3 linked regions of the Homo sapiens genome follow. The protein of the gene in region 1 purifies or fractionates together with the protein of each later gene. This does not show direct contact. Each region holds a gene or a part of one and is shown in the gene's direction. Other genes may lie near its edges. The genes, in order: KDELR3, ALG8 and AGPAT3.

Region 1 (7,108 bases):
AAATTATCTGAGTATGGTGGCAGGTGCCTGTAATCCCAGCTACTCATGAGGCTGAGGCAGGAGAATCGCTTGAACCTGGGAGGCGGAGGTTGCAGTGAGCTGAGATTGCACCATTGCACTCCAGCCTGGGCAACAAGAGCAGAACTCTGTCTCAAACAAACAAACAAGCAAAACAAAACTGAAGATCACAAGGGTTCCCAAAGTGCTAAGGAAAATGTGAGTAAAACCCAGGGGACTGGCAGGCTGAGGATGAAGAGAAAAGAGGGGTAGGGGAAGGCCCAAGCGGGTGACCAAGCGTCCCCCACCAGGGCTGCCTCCCAGGCAGTCCTTCGTGGGGCTGAGGGCTTCTCTGTCAAAGTCTGTGTGAGGGCTCAGTGAGATGAACATCAGGCCATCCCAGAGCTGGCCTCAGGTCAGTATGGCCTCCCCCAGTGGGGTTCATTACCCACTGCCAGCCCCACTGTTGCCCTCACCCCGGCTAGTGCACGTGCGCGCGTGCTAGACCCCCCAGAGGGACTCAGGTTCTCACTGAGCACTGTGTATTCCTCAGCTCAGTCCTGCCACTCTGCATGAGGGGCCGTTTGGCAGGTGAGGAATGTGAGACCGAGGCTCGCCCTAAAGCCAGCACATTCTCCAGAATGTTAGGGACTTCAGGGGTGTTCCTTCTTGCTCATTAAAAATGTTCCCCCAGGCTGGGTGCAGTGGCTTACCCATGTAATCCCAGCACTTTGGGAAGCTGAGGCAGGAGGATCACCTGAGCCCAGGAATTTGAGACCAGCTTGGGCAACATGGCAAAATCTTGTCTCTAGAAAAAATATAAAAATTAGCTGGGCATGGTAGCATGTGCCTGTAGTCCCAGCTACTCAGGAGGCTAAGGTAGGGGGGTCATCCGAGCCTGGGAGGTTGAGGCTGCAGTGATCTGTGATTGTGTCACTGCACTCCAGCCTGGGTGACAGAGTGAGACCCTGCCTCACAAAAAAAGAAAAAAAAATGTTCTCCCACCCCAAATGTCTGGAACCAGAGGGATGGTTAGAGAAGGCACAGTTCAGGGGTACAGGGGAACCAGACCCTGAATTAGACAGCACAGTAGTTCCCCCTTATCCACGGAGGATATGTTCCAAGACTGCCAGTGGATGCCTGAAACCACGGGTTAAACCAAACCCTATATATATACTGTTTCTTCCATCTGATAACCAAGACTGCTGTCCGGGCACAGTGGCTTACGCCTGTAATCCCAGCACTTTGGGAGGCCGAAGTGGGCAGTCACTTGAGGTCAGGAGTTCGAGACCAGCCTGGCCAACACGGTGAAAACCCATCTCTACTAAAAACACAAAAATTAGCCGGGCATGATGGTGGGCGCCTGTAATCCCAGCCACCCGGGAGGCTGAGGCAGGAGAATGACTTGAACCCGGGAGGCAGACGTTGCAGTGAGTCGAGATCGCACCACTGCACTCCAGCCTGGGTGACAGAGTGAGACTCTGTCTCAAAAAATAAATAAATAAATAAAAAGTGGCCAAAGGACACTAAGGAGCATGACAACAAAATGCAGCATGGATTCCGGGATGGAATCCAGGAATGGAAAAAGGGCAGCAGTGGGAAAACTGGTGAAATCAGAATAAAGCCTGGAGTTCAGTCAACAGTGCTCTACTGATGTTGATTTCTTTGTTTTGATAAAGTACTGTCACTAAATACGATGTTTTTTTGTTTTGTTTTGTTTTGTTTTTTAAGACAGAGTTTTGCTCTTGTTGCCCAGGCTGGAGTGCAATGGCACGATCTCGGCTCACTGCAACCTCCACCTCCTGGGTTCAAGCGATTCTCCTGCCTCAGCCTCCCAAGTAGCTGGGGTTACAGGCATGAGCCACCACACCTGGCTAATTTTGTATTTTTTAGTGGAGATGGGGTTTCTCCAAGTTGGTCAGGCTTGGTCTCAAACTCCCAACCTCAGGTGATCTGCCCGCCTCGGCCTCCCAAAGTGTTGGATTACAGGCATGAGCCACCGCCCCCGGCCCAAATACGATGTTAACACTAGATATAGCTGGATATGTGGGATTCTCTGTACTGTCTTTACAACTCTGTTGTAAATCTAACATTCTTTCAAAATAAAAAGTTAAAAAAAGAAAGAGACCAAAGTGGGTCAAGAAACAGCATTTAGACTGGGCGCGGTGGCTCACGCCTATAATCCCAACACTGAGAGAATGAGGTAGGAGGATCACTTGGGCCCAGGAGTTTGAGACCAGGCTGGGCGACATAGTGAAACTCTGTCTCTACAAAAATAATAATAATAATAATTAATAATAAAATTTGCCAGTCTGATGGTTTGTGTCTGTAGTTACCAGCTACTCGGGAGGCTGAGATAGGAGAATTGTTTGAGTCCAGGAGATAGAGGCTGCAGTGAGCTATGATTGCACCACTGCACCCCAGCCTGGGAGACAGAGTAAGACCCTTTCTCTAAAAAGAAAAAAATAAAAAAGAAAGAAACATCATGGAGAGTATGAACCCTTTTTTGTCAACTCAGTGCATCCATGTGCATCATATGTGTACACATAGGTGTCATGTGTGTACATGTTCACAAAGATATGGAAGGATGAACACTAGGGGTTTGGAATATTTTTATCTTTGCATCTTTGTATATTGTTTGATTTTTGTTTTGCAAAGAGTAAATATAGGCATAACTTTTGTAACTAGAAAAAAGGCTTTTTGGCTGGGCGTGGTGGGTCATGCCTGTAATCCCAGCACTTTGGGAGGCCAAGGCGGGCAGATCACTTGAAGTCAGAAGTTTGAGACCAGCCATGACCAACCTGGCGAAACTCCGTCTCTACTAAAAATTCAAAAATTAGCCAGGCGTGGTGGCAGGCACCTGTAATCCCAGCTACTTCGGAGGCTGAGGCAGGAGAATCACTTGAACCCAGGAGGCAGAGGTTGTGGTGAGCCGAGATCACGCCACTGCACTCCAGCCTGGGCAACAGAGTGAGACTCCATCTCAAAAAAAGAAAAAAGAAAAAAGAAAAAAGGCTTTTTAAATCTTACAGTTTGAAAAATAAAATAGAATGCTCCCCTGGCCCTGAACCTTCCTCTGCCTGCTCTGGTCTCCCTGGTGAATCAACACCTTGTAAAGTCAGTGAGTTGTTCCTCCTAAGACTGAGCTTTGGGGACTGTCAGTGGAACTCTGGGGGTGGAGTGAAGAGAAGCCTCAACAACCCCCACCAAGCCCGACTCACACCACCCCCGACATCCTCCCCAGAGCAAGAGCCCAGGCAGGCACACGCAGGGGGACTGGGAACTCGGTGTTCGTGTCTTTATTTGGAGACTGGGAGACAGATTACAGTTTAATGAGAGGAACGACGACTCAAGTGATCCGATGGGAAGGGTGAGTTTCCTGGCCCTTAGGGAGCGACAGTGCCCTGGACAGGAGGTCTTTGAGTGGGAGTGGACACTCTAGAGGCCTCCCCAGCTCCAGGCTGTGCACCTCTTGAGGGTGGGCAGGCTTGGGAGTCTGTGTCCTCATTGTCTCCTGTCTACCCTTGGCCACAGGCATCTCTGGGAAGAGCCAGATCCTGTTTGCTCTCGTCTTCACCACCAGGTACCTGGACCTGTTCACCAACTTCATCTCCATCTACAACACAGTAATGAAGGTGAGGGGCTGGGTGATGATGGTTGGGGGAAGCCACCAAGCCCCCACAAACTGTGAGGTAGCCTGCTTGGAAACTCATTCTGTGGAGCCAGGCCGACCTGGGTTTGAATCCTGACTTTGCTGCTTAGTGGCTGCAAGACCTCATCTTGGGCCTCTTTGTATGTCAGTGTCCTCGTGCAAAAATGAGGACAGGGCTGGGCACTGTGGCTCATGCCTGTAATCCCAGCAATTTGGGAGGCCGAGTCGGGCGGATGGAGACCATCCTGGCTAACAAGGTGAAACCCTGTCTCTACTAAAAATACAAAAAATTAGCCGGGCGTGGTGGCTCATGCCTGCAGTCCCAGCTACTCAGGAGGCTGAGGCAGGAGAGTTGCTTGAACTTGGGAGGCGGAGGTTGCAGTGAGCCGAGATCGCGCCACTGCACTCCACCCTGGGTGACAGAGTGAGACTCTGTCTCAAAAAAAAAAAAAAAAAAAAAAAAAAGACAGTACCATTACTTAGCTCAGAGGGTTTGGTTGGGAACATTAAATGAGATAATAAATGTAAATGTAAAAAACCCTGCCATATATTAAACATTCAATAAAGGGTCACACCTGTAATCCCAGCACTTTGGGAGGCCAAGGCGAGAGGACCGCTTGAGCTCAGGAGTCTGAGACCAGCCTGGGCAATGCAGTGAGACTCCGCCTCTACATAAAATTTAAGAAATTTAGCTGGGCGTAGTGGTGCTCATCTGTGGTCCCAGCTACTCAGGAGGCTGAGGTGGGACAATCACCTGATCTTGGTAGATCAAGGCTGCAGTGAGCCATGATCATGCCACTGTACTCCAGTCTGGGCAACAGAGTGAGATCCCGTCTCAAGAAAAAAAAAATTATTTAGGTGATAGAGAAGGATTAGAGAGCTACTTCAGGGAGTGTGGTCAGGGCATCTTCAAAGAGATGACATGTAAGCTGACAGCTTAGTGACAACAAGGAACCAGCCATGTAAAGATCAAAGGACACACCTTCTTTCTGTTTTTTTAAGACGGAGTCTCACTGTTTTCTGTTGCCCAGGCTGGAGTGCAGCAGCGCAATCTCAGCTCACTGCAGCCTCCACCTCCTGGTTTCAAGCCGGGAGCTTGCCTTGTGCCTCAGCCTCCCAAGTAGCTGGGACTACAGGCATGTGCCACCATGTCCAGCTAATTTTTGTATTTTTAGGAGAGACAGGGTTTCTCCATGTTGGCCAGGCTGGTCTCACGCTCCTGACCTCAAGTGGTCCACCCACCTCGACCTCCCAAAGTGCTGGGATTATGGGTGTGAGCCACCATGCCCAGCCAAGATGTAGATTTTAGTTGGACACATTATCTAATAGGAATCTTATTTCTTGTGCAGTGGTGCGATCATGGCTCACTGCCTCAACTTCCCGGGCTGAAGGGGTCCTCCCACCTCAGACTCCTGAGTAGCTGGGACTACAGGCACGCACCACCATGCCTGGCTAATTTTTTTGTATTTTTAATAGAGACAAGATTTCACCATGTTGCCCAGGCTGGTCTCAAACCCCTGGGCTCAAGTGATCTGCCTGTGTCAGTCTCCCGAAGTTCTGGAATTACCATGATCAGCTAGGAGTCTTTTTTTTTTTTGAGACGGAGTCTCGCTCTGTCGCCCAGGCTGGAGTGCAGTGGGGCAATCTCGGCTCACTGCAAGCTCCGCCTCCCGGGTTCACGCCATTCTCCTGCCTCAGCCTCCCGAGTAGCTGGGACTACAGGCGCCTGCCACTGCGCCCAGCTAAGTTTTGTATTTTTAGTAGAGACAGGGTTTCACCTTATTAGCCAGGATGGTCTCGATCTCCTGACCTTGTTATCTGCCCGCCTCGGCCTCCCGAAGTGCTGGGATTACAGGTGTGAGCCATTGCGCCCGGCCAGGAGTCTTCTTTTTTGTTGTTGTTGAAATGGAGTCTTGCACTGTGGCTCAGGCTGGGGTGCAGTGGTGCAATCTCGGCTCACTGCAACCTCTGCCTCCTGGATTCAAGCAATTCTCCTACCTCAGCCTCCAGAGTAGCTGGGATTACAGGCACCCACCACCACGCCCGGCTACTTTTTGTATTTTTTGATAGAGACGGGGTTTCACTATGTTGGCCAGGCTGGTCTCAAACTCCTGACCTCGTGATCTGCCCACCTTGGCCCCCCAAAGTGTTGGAATTACAGGCGTGAGCCACCACACCTGGCCCCCCCTTTTTTTTTTTTTTTTGAGACAGAGTGGAGTGCAGTGGCACGATCTTGGCTCACTGCAGTCTCTGCTCCCGGGTTCAAGTTATTTATTTATTTATTGTTTAGACAGAATCTAGCTCTGTCGCCCAGGGTGGAGTGCAGTGGCGCGATCTCGGCTCATTGCAACCTCCACCTCCCAAGTTCAAGAGATTCTGCCTCAGCCTCCCGAGTAGCTGGGATTACAGATGTGTGCCACCATGCCTGGCTAACTTTTTTTTTTTTTTTTTTGTATTTTTAATAAAGACGGGGTTTCACCATGTTAGCCAGGATGGTCTCCTGACCTCGTGATCTGCCCACCTCGGCCTCCCAAAGTGTTGGGATTACAGGCATTAGCCACCATGCCCAGTCTTTTTTATTTTGAGACAGTCTCCCTCTGTTGCCCAGGCTGGAGTGCAGTGGTGTGATCTCGGCTCATTGCAACCTCCGCCTCCCAGGTTCAAGCGAATTCTCCTGCCTCAGCCTCCTGAGTAGCTGGGATTACAGGTGCACACCACCATGCCTGGCTAATTTTTGTATTTTTAGTAGAGACGGGGTTTCACTATGTTGGCCGGGCTGGTCTCGAACTCCTGACCTCGTGATCCACCCTCCTCGGCCTCCCAAAGTGCTGGGATTACAGGCGAGAGCCACCGTGCCTGGCCTAGGAATCTTATTTCTAAGGAACAAGGGTTCCATGGGGGAATTCTATCTTGCAGGGCTATTGAGAAGATCACATGAGATAACATACAGCACCTAGAAAATATTTAACTAAAGTGAGTTGTCCTTTTCTTCCATATCAGAGACATCCCTTTGGGATTTCAGGCATGTTGTTACTAGTTGGTAGAGTGGAGGTTGCTGTTACTTGTGAGGTGTTGAACTCATTCAGATTTAGTGAATGTGAATCTGAGGACTGGAAATCACCGTCTACTTAAGTTCACACATGTATCAAACATCACCTGCTAGTTCATTTCTCAGCCCAAGTCAGCCTTGGGCATTCCTGGCAGAGACAGCAGACTCAGCCCTTGCCATAGCTGAATGAGGTCTAGGAAGCTCAAAGAGGCTAGTTTCTACATTTATGAAATGAAAAAGTGACCACCTCATTCACTCATTCCAGCATTTGTTTTGTGCCAGGGACTGAGTTAGGAGCTGGGGATTAGGAGGTGGACCTTGCCACGGAGTCCTCTCTTAGAGGGGAGATGGACTTGTACCTAGACATTTACAGAGCATGTGATCACGGGCTAAAATGAGTATGTTCACAT
Region 2 (7,108 bases), on another chromosome or scaffold:
TAAAACTAAGTATTTATTAATATGGTAAATCTAATTTATTGGCTCAAAAGCATCTATGGACTTCTGTAGTTTGACCTATTAGGTTCATTAATAAATGAACTATTAGTAAACTAATTATGAAGATGTAATAAGTTGTTAGACTGTACATCCCAGAACTTAATTATTAATTTTGATAGTATAATTAATTTCTTTTTTTTTTGAGACAGAGTCTCACTCCGTCATCCAGGCTGGAGTGCAGTGGCGATTCTCCTGCCTCAGCCTCCCAAGTAGCTGGGATTACAGGCGCCTGCCACTGCACCCAGCTAATTGTTTTGCAGTAGTTTTGTTTTTGTTTTTGTTTTTGTTTTTTGAGACGGGAGTCTTGTTCTGTTGCCAGGCTGGAGTGTAGTGGTACGATCTCAGCTCACTGCAACCCCCACCTCCTGGGTTCAAGCGATTCCCCTGCTTCAGCCTCCTGAGTAGCTGGAACTACAGGCATGCACCACCACGCCCGGCTAATTTTTTTTGTATTTTAGTAGAGACAGGGTTTCACCATGTTGTCCAGGATGGTCTCGATCTCCTGACCTCGTGATCCGCCCACCTCGGCCTCCCAAAGTGCTGGGATTATAGGCCTGAGCCACCACACCCGGCCTTTTTTGTAGTTTTTAGTAGAGACAGGGTTTCACCATCTTGGCCAGGCTGGTCTTGAACTCCTGACCTCGTAATCGACTTGCATCAGCCTCCCAAAGTTCTGGGATTACAGGCGTGAGTCACTAGGCCCGGCCAATTTTTTTTTTTTTTTTTTTTTTTGAGACAGTCTCGGTCTGTCACCTAGGCTGGAGTGCAGTGGCGCAATTTCAGCTCACTGCAACCTCTGCCTCCCAGGTTCAAGCGATTCTCCTGCCTCAGCCTCCAGAGTACCTGGGAATACAGGTATGTACCACCACGCCCAGCTAGTTTTTTTTGTATTTTTAGTAGAGATGGGGTTTCACTATGTTGGTCAGGCTGTTCTTGAACTCCTAACCTCAAGTGATCTGCCTGCCTTGGCCTCCCAAAGTGCTGGGATTATAGGCATGAGCCACCATGCCCAGCCAGTAGAATTAATTTTAATGAGTTAAATATATACATCAAGGCTAGGTGCGGTGGCTCAAACCTGTAATCCCAGCACTTTGGGAGGCCAAGGCAGGCAGATCACGAGGTCAGGATTTTGAGACCAGCCTGGCCAACATGGTGAAACCCCGTCTCTATTAAAAATACAAAAATTAGCTGGGCGTGGTGGCAGGCACCTGTAATCCCAGCTACTTGGGAGGTTGAGGCAGGAAAATCGCTTGAACCCAGGAGGTGGAGGTTGCAGTGAGCCGAGATCGCACCACTGCACTCCAGCCTTGGCAACAAAGCGAGACTCCGTCTCAAAAAAACAAAAAATTATATATATATATATATATATATATTTACATATAAAATATATTTATTTACATATAAAAATATATATATACACATCAAATGCCAATTTTTTCTGAGTTGTTGCTTTTATGTTAACTTTTGTTAGACTGTGCACAAAGTGATGAATGATTCGGTTTCATGAAGAATTGTCTAAGATTGGCTGTCTTTCAGAGATGATGCAAATTGTATTCACCTGAACTCTGTTTCTGTAAAGTCTGTTTCAAATGATACTGAAGTTTATCTTTGCCTGTTGTTTCTAGCCCTCTATTTTCTGTCTTTGGTTTAAACCCCAAGGGCCCAGAGGCTTTCTCCGATGTCTAACTCTTTGTGCCTTGAGCTCCTTTATGTTTGGGTGGCATGTTCATGAAAAAGCCATACTTCTAGCAATTCTCCCAATGAGGTAAGCAGATAGCTCAGCCAGTGAGCATTTTGGCATATTTCACAATGATCCTATTTTCTATTTGCTCTGTCCCTTCTTGTCATGTTCACCAGGATAGGCAAAAACAAAGATGTATAGGAACAGATGTCCACTAGGACAGGACAGGGATGCTTAACTTGAGATTCTTGGACCCATGAAGGTATGCAAAAATGCATGTACTATTTCTGTTTCTGCGTTTTTGGAAAGAAGCACTGTAGTGATTAAGTACCATGAAAGCCGGCTTTTAGATCTGATCATTGAGGGACAGTATGTTATAGAAAAAACCTGGGCTGGCCGGGCGCGGTAGCTCACGCCTGTAATCCCAGCACTTAGGGAGGCCAAGGCGGGCAGATCACGAGGTCAGGAGATCGAGACTATCCTGGCTAACATGGTGAAACCCCATCTCTACTAAAAATACAAAAAATTAGCTGGGCATAGTGGCACATGCCTGTAGTCCCAGCTACTCGGGAGGCTGAGGCAGGAGAATTGCTTGAACCCGGGAGGAAGAGGTTGCAGTGAGCCGAGATCGCACCACTGCATTCCATTCTGGGTGACCGAAGGAGACTCTGTCTCAAAAATGAAAAAAAGAAAAAACTTGGGCTTTGGTGTCATCCCGTCTGAAAATAAGGTCCCATGGTTCCTTGTTAAGTGTTGTTAGTCAAAGTAAGGATTTAGTCTATTCTGGAATAATACCTGATACTGTACTACATTTCAGATTTTCCAGAACTGTTTTTGTTTTGCATTCTTTCTTTTGCGCCTCACAATAATCTTTAAGATAATTGGCCAGGCATGGTGGCTCACATCTGCAATCCCAGTACTTTCGGAGGCTGAAGCGGTGGTTCACTTGATGCCAGGAGTTTGAGATCAGCCTGGCCAACATGGCAAAATCCCATCTCTACTAAAAATACAAAAATTAGCCAGGCATGGTGGTGCATGCCTGTAATCCCAGCTACTTGGGAGGCTGAGGCATGAAGATCCTTTGAACCTGGGAGGTGAAGGTTGCAGTGAGCCAAGATGGCGCCACTGCACTCCAGCCTGGGGCAATAGAGTGAGACCCTGTCTCAAAAAAAGAAAAAAAAAAAAGATAGTTAAAATAAATGGGTATTATTCCCTTTTTTTTCCTTTCTTTTTTTTTTTTTTACTTTTTGGTAGAGACAGGGTCTTGCCATGTTGCCTAGGCTGGTCTCAAACTACTGGGCACAAGCAGTCTTCCTACCTCAGCCTCCCAAAGTGCTGGGATTGCAGATGTGAGCCAACAAAACAGGCTTATTCCCTGTCTTAACATCTGAAGAATCTAGGGCTCAAAATGTTTGTGACTTGTCCAAAGTCATACAGGTCGCAAGAATTAGAGTTAGGACCTGAATCTTATGATGTTGAATCTATGATCTTTTCACTATGCCATGCTAAAAAAACCATTTTAAATGTAAGTGTCCAGTTTAGGCATAGTTGAAACCCAATAGATAAATAAATGGTAATAATAGCCTCTTTCTTTATATTTTTCTTGAATCTTGAGAAATCATTTAAGCTCTGAACATATATTAAGCAAATTTGTCAGGCCAGTATGTGGCTTGTCTGGGTTTATTTAGCAGCTTGGAGTTTCCAAATTAAAAAGTAAAGCAAAAACTTTTAATGTCTTTAGTCTGAATTCACACCAAACACCAGCAGGTGAAGGGCATTGTCCAAGAGATGAGCTATAGGGTTGGAAATGAAACTCCAAGTCCTGTTTCCCTGACTGCCACCACTAGGCAGCTCCCAATCCCACAACATTCCTGTCTTTGGAGAAGGCAATTACTCAGGGAAGCAAGATTCTTTTTTTTTTTTTTTTGAGACAGAGTCTCGCTCTGTTGCCCAGGCTGGAGTGCAGTGGCGCGATCTCGGCTCACTGCATCCTCTGCCTCCCAGGTTCAAGCAATTCTCCTGCCTCAGCCTCCTGAGTAGCTGGGATTACAAGCACCCGCCACCATGCCCAGCTAATTTTTGTATTTTTAGCAGAGACAGGGTTTCACCATGTTGGCCAGGCTGCTCTTGAATTCCTGACCTCAGGTGATCCTCCCGCCTCGGCCTCCCAAAGTGCTGGGATTAAAGGCATGAGCCACTGTCCCCGGCCAGAAGCAAGATTCTTTTACGATACCCCTGATTCAGTTTGATACATGCTATTGATTGCTTAAAATTTCCTACTAAAAAATTAATATTCTCAACTAAATTGAACTTGTGCCAAAATCAGCATGTTCTTCTATGCCTCAGCCAGTTCTAATGTAATAGGAGATGCAGTTTATTTAAGCTATTTGCAAGTGTAATAACAGTTGTTGTTTTAAGAAATTATTTTTATTTTTAGCCTTTTGTCTGTGGGAAAAGCAGGAGACGCTTCGATTTTTCTGATTCTGACCACAACAGGACATTATTCCCTCTTTCCTCTGCTCTTCACTGCACCAGGTAAACAGCGTCTTCTGAGAAAAATATATTTGACTATCACAACCTTTTCATCGAGGCCCACAGATTAATACATCTAATTTAAACAACTCTAAAATCTCTTGGATAGAGATCATTCATCCTCTTAAATAAAACCTCCAATTTCCTGTAATTCTCAGCATCTCTAGATGTCACAAAAATGTAAAATTAAACTTAAAAAGTATTATTAGCACTATATAGCTGTGTCAGTGTGCTTATATTACTTTCAGCATCATAAGTCTTTCTGTCATCAGCTAAATTATCTTTTTTTTTCTATTCTTTTAACAGAACTTCCCATTAAAATCTTACTCATGTTACTATTCACCATATATAGTATTTCGTCACTGAAGACTTTATTCAGGTAATCAAAAAAATGTTTAAAATTATACTTACTCTTGTGAAATGTTTACACCTAAGTGGTCAAATAAGCTCTTTAAATTTTATTTTTAAGTTATAACAGTAATATGACAACATTACAAAAAAAATTGGTAAATAGAGGGAGAAATCACTCAATCCCATCACTCAGTCGAGACAACATAGTTTGTGTCTTTAGTTTGGGGGAGTATTTGAGGAGGACTACTTAAATTAAAATCCTATATGAAAACTCAAAAACTGAATGTAAAATATGCTTTATGAATAAAACTATTAAATACAGATAGATATGGAAAAAACTAAAAGATACTATGTACAAATTTTTTTTGTTCGTTTTTTTGAGACGGAGTTTTGCTCTTGTTGCCCAGGCTGGAGGGCAATGGCGTGATCTCGGCTCACCACACCCTCCGCCTACCGGGTTCAAGCTATTCTCCTGCCTCAGCCTCCCAAGTTACTGGGATTACAGGCATGCGCCACCATGCCCAGCTAATTTTTTTTTTTTTGGAGACGGAGTTTCACTCTTGTCGCCCAGGCTGGAGTGCAGTGGCGCGATCTCCACTCACTGCAACTTCCGCCTCCTGGGTTCAAGCGATTCTCCAGCCTCAGCCTCCTGAGTAGCTGAGATTATAGGTATGCATCACTACCACACCTGGCTAATTTTTTATATTTTTAGTAGAGGTGGGGTTTCACCATGTTGGCCAGGCTGCTCTCGAGCTCCTGACGTCAGGTGATCCACTTACCTTGGCCTCCCATAGTGCTGGAAGTACAGGCGTGAGCTGCTGTGCCCGGCTAATTTTGTATTTTTATTAGAGATGGGGTTTCTCTGTGTTGGTCAGGCTGGTCTTGAACTCCCAACCTCAGGTGATCCACCCACCTCGGCCTCCCAAAGTGCTGGGATTACAGGCGTTGAGCCACCGCACCCAACTATGTACAAATTTTACTACAGAATTATAGATGGAAACTTTTTCTCTTCTAAACTGTATGTAATGTTAACTATAATTTTTTTTTTTTTTTTTTGAGACGGAGTTTCACCCTTGTTGCCCAGGCTGGAGTGCAATGGCACGATCTCAGCTAACTGAAACCTCCGCCTCCCAGGTTCAAGCGATTCTCCTGCCTCAGCCTCCCTAGCAGCTAGGATTACAAGCATGCGCCACCACACCCAGCTGATTTTGTATTTTTAGTAGAGATGGGTTTCTCCATGTTGGTCAGGCTGGTCTCAAACTCCTGACCTCAGGTGATCCACCGTCCTTGGCCTCCCAAAGTGCTGGCATTACAGGTGTGAGCCACCATGCCCGGCCAACTGTAATTTTTTAAAGCTTGCTTATGGTTCATAACTGTGTCCATAAAAACTTATATAATTAACTATGTTAAAATGCAGTTATAGCCATGTGACCCAGCAATTCCACCCCTATACCCAAAAGAATGGAAACAGGGACTCAACAGATACTTGTACATCAGTATTCATTGTAGCATTATTCATACTAGCTAAAAGATGGAAACAACCCAATGTCCATCAACAAATACATGATAAAGTGTGATATATACATATAGTGGATTATTCAGCCAAAGAAAAGAATGAAGTTCCAATACATGCTACATGAATGAATCTTGAAAACATGCTAAGTGAAAGAAACGAGAGAATAGAACAAATATCATATCGTTCCACTGATAGGAAATTCTAGAATAAACAAACATAGAGACAGAAAGTAGATTAGAGGTTGAGGGAACAGGGGGATGGGAAGTTATTGTTAATGGTTCCAGAGTTTCTGTTTGGGGTCACGAAAATATTTTGAAGGTGGATAGTGGCGATGGGCGCATATTATTGATCTACTTAATACCATCAAACTGTATACTTAAAAATGGTTAAACAAATAGCAAATTTCATGTTATATATATTTTACCAAAATAAAAAATATTTTAAAAATCTGGTGAAACCTTGTCTCTATAGAAAATACAAAAATTAGCTGGGCATGGTGGCAGGCGCCTGTAATCCCAGCTACTTGGGAGGCTGAGGCAAGAGAATCGCTTGAACCCAGGAGGTGGAGGTTGCAGTAAGCTGAGATTGCACCACTGCACTCCAGTCTGGGTGACAGAGCAACGCTCCATCTCAAAAAGAAAATTTTTTTTAAATCTTCAATTCTATATTGTTTCTCATGTTCTTATTCCAATGTCACAGCACCCAACCCCTTTACCTCTTTCAAATGCAGAACTAATTCTCTCTGAGCAGCTTGAGCTAAATAACAGCATAGGTCAATGGTGGAGTAAATTTAGATTGTTGAGATAATATAACGTATATAATTATCATTTTTTTCTAAATGTGAAACTTATTTTTTATTTTTATTTATTTTTTGAGACAGAGTCTCACTCTGTCGCCCAGGCTAGAGTGCAGTGGTGCCATATCGACTCACTGCAACCCAGTTAAAGCAGTTCTCCTGCCTCAGCCTCCCA
Region 3 (7,108 bases), on another chromosome or scaffold:
CAGTAGTGGGCACCTGTAATCCCAGCTACTCAGGAGGCTGAGGCAGGAGAATCGCTTAAACCCGGGAGACAGAGGTTGCAGTGAGCCGAGATCGTACCACTGCACTCCAGCCTGGGCGACAGAGTGAGACTCCATCTCAAAAAAAAAAAAAAAACAAAAAAAAACGAGAGAGTTGATGGTGCCCTTCACTACTTCCCAAGCATCCTAGAGTCCCACGGGCTGCCCCGCCCACGGGCAGTGGCTGCGGAGTGTCTGCTCTATCAGGCATGGTGATTTCCTGCCAGCCTGTGCCTTTGACATTCCCACCAGAGGCAGAACCTTCTGCAGGTGGCCCTGGCCAGGCTCCTCTCTCCTCCCAGCTCCTCATTAGCCTCCTTTGCCAGGCTAGGAAACCGAGGTATGCGAGGTTAAGGAACTTTCCTTGGGCCGTGCAGCTGAGAGTGCGCTTTGCAGGGATTTGCATCCAGGCCGCGGGACTCACACAGGCCACACCTGCCACCCCCACTGCCTCTGGCTCGTGGGAGGTGTGGGATGTGGCGGGTGGCCGGGGCAGTGCTGGGCAGGCAGGTGTTGGTATTCACAACGTTGCTTTCTTGACCGATTATTTTCCTGGGAGACTTCCTCAGTCAAAGGGTTGATATGCTTGCGAGCTCTCGATGCACGCTATCAGATTCTCCAAAAACGTACAGCCAGCTTCGCCTGCACCTGCAGCTTCTGTGATTTGTGCTCTTAATTGACGTGGCGCTTTTTTTAGGTTGAGTCGTTTTTCATTGCCAACAATCTTCTCCTGCATTGAAATAATAGCTTGTAAAGAAGCCTCACGCTTCCTTTTTCTCTGTTGACTCTTCTAGGACGCGCTCCAGGAGATATATAATCAGAAGGGCATGTTTCCAGGGGAGCAGTTTAAGCCTGCCCGGAGGCCGTGGACCCTCCTGAACTTCCTGTCCTGGGCCACCATTCTCCTGTCTCCCCTCTTCAGTTTTGTCTTGGGCGTCTTTGCCAGCGGATCACCTCTCCTGATCCTGACTTTCTTGGGGTTTGTGGGAGCAGGTAATGGACACTGTCGCTAACAGCTCACACTCTGACGGGCCTCACAGTATCAGCCACAGGGTCCGGGACCTGGTGACTCATCACAGTGGCTGTGGGAGGCAGGGGCCTGGCTGTTATGGACCCTGGAGCCAGGATCCCCCCACGGCCTGCGGGCCTCAGAGCCTGGATTCTTGCACTGAGCTGAGGGTCGCCTCCCCAGAGAGCCGAACGGCCGCCACCTGGCGCCATCCCCACTGCAGCCCCACTGGCTGGCGCCCTTGAGGATGCCGACGAGAGGGTCCCCGAGAGGGTCCCCAGCCCCCCTGTCTGCTTTTGGGCTCTTAGGGGTCAGGCTGGGCTGGCCATTCGGGAGGTTTAAGCAGGACATCATCATTCAGCTCCTCCCCATTGACCCCCAGTGACTTCCCCACTGTGTGCCCACCCCAGGCACAATGCCAGGCCCACCACGACTCATCAGCTAGCCTGGGGCCGAACAGACACCCAGCCTGTCCCTGTGGTGAGCTCCGGCGCCCACCCACACCCCGTAATTGAGGGGTCTCTGTCCGTGGAGACACAGTCCGTGTGCATCGCCCCGTGAGCCGACTCCCCAGGCCCAGCAGCTGGGCCAGCTCCTCCCCTGCTCCTGCCGCCCCTGCCAGGGGCCTTGGTGGGAGGGGTCCTGAGAGGCAGTGACTGCCACCAGCCTCTCCCATTGGACTACGAGATGACTTGAGGCCACCCACAGAGGACAGGATGTGACCTGCTTACATCCGAGGGTCCTGCTCGTCCACCTCTGTCACCTGTTGGGTTTGCAAGGCCGAGCTGTTAGAATGCCCCGAAGCCCTTCTGCTCCCACCAGCCAAAGACCCAGAGGGGCAGGCAGGGCAAGGTCCACGTGTCCACCTGCCTCGGACCCAGCCGGTCAGAAGACGTGCCCCTCACCCCTGCCTGAGCAGACCACGGTCTGAGAGGGCTGTCTCCCCGCGGGCCACACCTACTCACTGACAGCAGAGGCCACTGGGTGCGGGGCAGAGGGACAGGGTCTGGGGCAGAGGAAGGAAGCCCCAGTAACACGTTTTACAGCAAAAAGGCAAAGTCATCCGTCTCACCTCTTCTCTCTCTCTCCTGTCTTGAAAGCTTCCTTTGGAGTTCGCAGACTGATAGGAGTAACTGAGATAGAAAAAGGCTCCAGCTACGGAAACCAAGAGTTTAAGAAAAAGGAATAATTAATGGCTGTGACTGAACACACGCGGCCCTGACGGTGGTATCCAGTTAACTCAAAACCAACACACAGAGTGCAGGAAAAGACAATTAGAAACTATTTTTCTTATTAACTGGTGACTAATATTAACAAAACTTGAGCCAAGAGTAAAGAATTCAGAAGGCCTGTCAGGTGAAGTCTTCAGCCTCCCACAGCGCAGGGTCCCAGCATCTCCACGCGCGCCCGTGGGAGGTGGGTCCGGCCGGAGAGGCCTCCCGCGGACGCCGTCTCTCCAGAACTCCGCTTCCAAGAGGGAGCCTTTGGCTGCTTTCTCTCCTTAAACTTAGATCAAATTTTTTGGTTTTTAATCAGTTATCTTGGGAACTTAACCTGGCCCCTCACCTCTTCTGCACCCCCCGCCCCCGAAACTGTCTCGTAATGAATTTCTGCTGTCCTCCTGGGAGTGGACGGCCGGGTCCCGTCCCCCGGGAGCATCGCTCGGCTCAGCACCTTGGCTCCCAGTGGGGGCCCCGTGGAGGGCGCCCGTAGTGATAAGCACACCGGCACGAACGTCAGGTCCATTCCTCGAAGTCGGAGCCCTCACTCTGCCCTGTCCTGGGGCTGGCTGAGGGCGAACGCCCCACCTCACTTTCTAGAGCCCTGTCTGTCCTAGCTCCTATCTGACCTTGTGTGTAAATACGTACATCTGTTTTTAAAGTGGATGGGCCCCTGAGAACTCAGTGAAATGCAGAGTTCTCCATGCACCTAAAGCTCCTTTGTCGCTCTCATGGCTGTCAGATCCTGGTCCCTCCACACTGGGTGCTGGGGAGGGAGGACCCTCGGGGCTACCGCGCGCCCCCCCATCCCACAGATCAGGAGCCAAGGAGGGAGAACAGGGCAGCCTGTGGGACTCTAGGATGCTTCAGAAGAAGCGACGGCACCGTCAACCCTCTGTTTTTTAAAGGTGGTTGGAGACTGTTAACACTGAGCTCATTGACTTCTAGAGATTTTATTTTTACTGGTTGATCTCTTGGTGGTTTTCAACTTCCTGCTGGAAACTAGAGGTGGGGCACCCCCCACCCCCCAGCCTCGCACTGTGTCCTTGGGGAAGGCCCGCCCCCATCCTGGCCGGTGTCACTGTGGCCCGGCCACCCCTGAGCGCCCAGCTCCCTACCTCCTGGACGTCTCTGAGAGTCCAGGCAGAGCAGAGGGCAGCGCTCGGCCGGTCATGCTGGCTCCCTTGGCCTTGCAGCGAGCCCCTGGCCCACGCCGAGCGAGGGATGCTTCTCCCTACAGCATGTCCACTCCCCCGGCATGGCCAGGTGGGGCCCCTGGGGCAATGGCAGTGGTAGAACGCTCAACTTGGTTGCGGTACCATCAGCCCACCTGCATTTGGCTTTCGACTTGCTTGTTCTAAGTCACAGCGCCCTCATCTTTTTAGCAAGGTAAAAAAACCAAAATGGGTGTTATCTCTGATATCTTGAAACCAGCGTTCTGAATAGAGGTAGGTTGAGTTTTCTAGGGGAAAACAAATGGAGAAAAGAGGCATGAAGAAAAGTAAACCGAGAACATAATTAGGCATCGGGCCTAAGTGTCCTGGGGAGATTGGAGGGGACGGCAGCGTTCTGCATGATGGAGGCGCTGCCGGGCCCCGGGTCTGTGGGGGCCGTGCTCTCAGGGCGTGTGCGGGACGCCACCTGTGCACACCTGCTCAGAGCACGGCTCCTCGCAGGGGTGAAGGGGCAGACCAACGAAACCAGATGAGACCAACGACACCATGCGAGACACGCTTGCAGACACTGTTGTTTTGGAAATGTGCTTCCCTCCATCTGAAATCTCATCCCTCCACCCGCCCACTCGGGCAGCTGTGCCGTGGGCAGGGCATGCGCTCCCCTGGCTGAGCACCCCAGAGATTCTCCTGCACCTTCCTCATGCCGCACGCTGCTCATCCGTCTCCATGTGTGTTTAGATCCATGCCATTCACTGACTCACTAACACCTGCAAAATCTTTAAGGAAAAAAGCTGAAGGGTACGACCATGCACATATGTGACCTGGAAAATGCAAATTTAGATCTTTTATGATTTAATTATTATTGTTTCCCATAGAAGTTCCCTCCCTTTGAAATTAATATATAATGTATAAATTCTGCACTGAGCCATGGCGGAGCTGGGCAGCCCCTAGGTTAGAGTGGAGACGGAGGCCCAGGCGCAGGGGTCACACCTCATCTGGTTTCCTTCCCATCTCACAGCTTAGCTTGTGCTTCTCAACACCAAGTCTTTAAGAGCAATAAAAACTACACCATGAATGTTTGAATTTTTTTTTTTTGGGGGGGGGAGGGTGGATTTTGCTTTTCATCCAGAAGGAAAAGGGGAGGAGAGCTCCTTTACATTTTTTAAATTAAATTCATAAATCCCAGAACAGTCTTTTTTTTTTCTTTTTCCTTTACACCCTACTTCTGAGCTTAATTCAGTTGATGTTATGTCCAAATTCAGGCTGAGTGCTCAGGCTGAAGCAACTCTGTAGCCCACAGTCCGTGCTGGCCACTGTCGGGGTGAGGCACATTCTAGGCCTGGCATCGCTGATGCCCTCTGCACCCAGTCCTTGAGCCAGGCCGAGGACAGGAAGGGCATTGCTGGCCTGTAGCTCCTGTTACCCACCCAGAGCCAGGCGCCACACTGGAGGCTCCCAGGCGGGAGGGCCCAGGCCCACCCACGGGCGTCTGGCCGGTCAAGCTCCCAGCCTGGGCCGTGGTCTCCTGGGGACGCCGCTGGCCTCCCAGCTTAGGCCCAGGTGCCAGGTGTCATGGGGTCTCCTGCCCATCTTCCCAAGGATGCCATTGCTGTCTTCATCGTCTTCCCCCGTGTGAGACACTGGTTGTCTGGTACTCGGCGACAGTGTACCAGACGCGCACCCTATGTGAGGTGCTTTAAGGTCCCTGTCCTCAGGAAGCGCAGTCTGGTGGAAGAGATGAGCGCTGAACAAATCACTAAATAACACAAAACAACAATGTAAGCAGCACTTTCTTGTGTAAAAAAAAAAAAAAAGCACGTCCTGTCGATGAATTTTGAGTCTCTCTGCCTTGCCTGTCCCGACTCCCTTTCGCGCACCGTGGCATGAGAATCTTTCCTCACGCTGTTCGTTGCGGTATTGCTGAGCATTGATGTTGATTTGAAGGAAAAGCCGTGGTTGGACCCAGCTGTGTGTTTCACTCACGTGCAATTGAGTAGCTGTTGCCAGGCTGTCCATGCCTGTTGTGACTACCGGTTGGGGTCAGATTTGGGGTGAAGAATGAGTAAGTTTCTGCATGCTTTGTCTCTACCTGAGACACTTCTACAACAAGCCAAGTATAATCTCTCCAGCCCTGCAGATTTTCACCTGACTTGTTCAGCCCCATGCGTAGACTCCCGCTGCAGGCCTCTGGCCTGTGGCTCACTGCATGCAGCCCCTGGCGTGCAATACTAGTGCTCCACGGCGCGATGTGCTTCTAGCCCTTGCACTGCACCTAGGCTCAGGGTTCAAACGGCCAGCCCGAAAAGCCTGCCTGCCTTCTTTCTGGAAACAGCACGTCCCCGGCCGTGTGCCTGCCCCTTTCTCTACTGAGCTAGTCCCCAAACCAAAGGCAAGCCCCCTCGGGCCTCGGGGGATGGGGCCGGCCACACCCCTGACTCCGCCCTGGCTCTGCCCCATACCCCTGCCGTGGGGCCGACCTGGGGGATGCAGACATCCGGCTCCGTATTCCTGCCTATCGGGGCCAGGATGCAAAAACAATTTTTGCGTAAAAGATGTCACACTGATCTGCTGGAGTGGGGTGGACACATGAATTCAGTTTTATCATGAACACTCGCCACTGGCTGCTTGTTAATTCAGGGATAATGGTGGCATTCTTACAAACTGCTCGGGAAATAGAATGACGGGAACACTTTTAGGGAGCCCAGGAAGTTACCAGGGACATTGGTGTCGCCGGCCCAGGCAACAGCAGCGTACGCTTTTCAAAGATCATTGAGTTGTCTTAGAATTTGAAGCTGTGTAATGACAATGTCACCTGGAGTTCGTCTCCATTTCTTAACTTTTTGTTGCACAAGTATTTGGACAGAAGTCGAACTGTGAATGAGATACTGAAATGCACTAAATTGTATTACATTAAACTGGAGTTACTTGATACAATGAAGAAATGCATCTGATCTACTTGTATTTATTGTCTCAGAATTGTACGTTGTGACAATCAAATGTTACTTGCCTAAATGCCAGGAAATTCAACTGGCCTTTTAATCAGCAAGATCGCCAGCAAGTACTGTAACTGTAAAGGAAAATCTCTCTCTCTGGAGAACCCACACAAACCATTGACCTGAGTGCGCATGACAGCCACTGGCTTCTTTTTCTATGATTGAAAATCTGCCATCGCTGACTGTTGGCCAGTTTCAAAGGGACCCATTGTATACAGGGTGCAAATGTATTATACGGATGTTTCCTTTTGTACACTTCATTTTTACAAGTTTTGCTACTCACAAGCTTTATGTAGTGGAGGATAGAGGTATTTTTGGTCTTTAGAAGCTTGTCGGGGTGAGGGCTGCTAACTTACACTTCAGAGGCCTGTGTCCCAAAGGCCTGGCTGCGTTTGCCGTGCTGTGCGAGGACCTGTGTACACAGGCAGGTGTGCGCCTGCCCGAGCGCGAGTAGCTCTTGTGTAGTGGTGAAATGCTGCAGGCATCTGTTTATTAAAATTGCTGCTGTGAAAGACAGGGATAAAATATCCACAATATAAGAGAAAGCGACTCCGTGCCTCCTTCTGTTTCTTCGTTTCCAGTCTGCATAGATGTCTCCAAGGGGAAACCAGGGCCACCAGGCACTCCTGTCCCATGGGGCCACCCACCTTCAGA

What was found.
Region 2: the proteins of KDELR3 (region 1) and ALG8 purify together in Homo sapiens (affinity purification with mass spectrometry; 2 studies listed by BioGRID and IntAct, with this or other methods). This does not show direct contact.
Region 3: the proteins of KDELR3 (region 1) and AGPAT3 purify together in Homo sapiens (affinity purification with mass spectrometry; 2 studies listed by BioGRID and IntAct, with this or other methods). This does not show direct contact.

Annotation. Positions count from the first base shown.
Region 1 is NC_000022.11:38,470,992-38,478,099, forward strand, and holds part of KDELR3 (ER lumen protein-retaining receptor 3), read left to right. Parts: intron 1-3,531; coding exon 3,532-3,632; intron 3,633-7,108.
Region 2 is NC_000011.10:78,101,521-78,108,628, reverse strand, and holds part of ALG8 (dolichyl pyrophosphate Glc1Man9GlcNAc2 alpha-1,3-glucosyltransferase), read left to right. Parts: intron 1-864; coding exon of another isoform or gene 865-912; intron 913-1,682; coding exon 1,683-1,822; intron 1,823-4,175; coding exon 4,176-4,273; intron 4,274-4,576; coding exon 4,577-4,649; intron 4,650-5,680; coding exon of another isoform or gene 5,681-5,739; exon of another isoform or gene 5,740-5,755; intron 5,756-7,108.
Region 3 is NC_000021.9:43,980,138-43,987,245, forward strand, and holds part of AGPAT3 (1-acyl-sn-glycerol-3-phosphate acyltransferase gamma), read left to right. Parts: intron 1-851; coding exon 852-1,050; intron 1,051-2,166; coding exon 2,167-2,255; 3' UTR 2,256-7,108. UniProt on the Homo sapiens protein: Converts 1-acyl-sn-glycerol-3-phosphate (lysophosphatidic acid or LPA) into 1,2-diacyl-sn-glycerol-3-phosphate (phosphatidic acid or PA) by incorporating an acyl moiety at the sn-2 position of the glycerol backbone.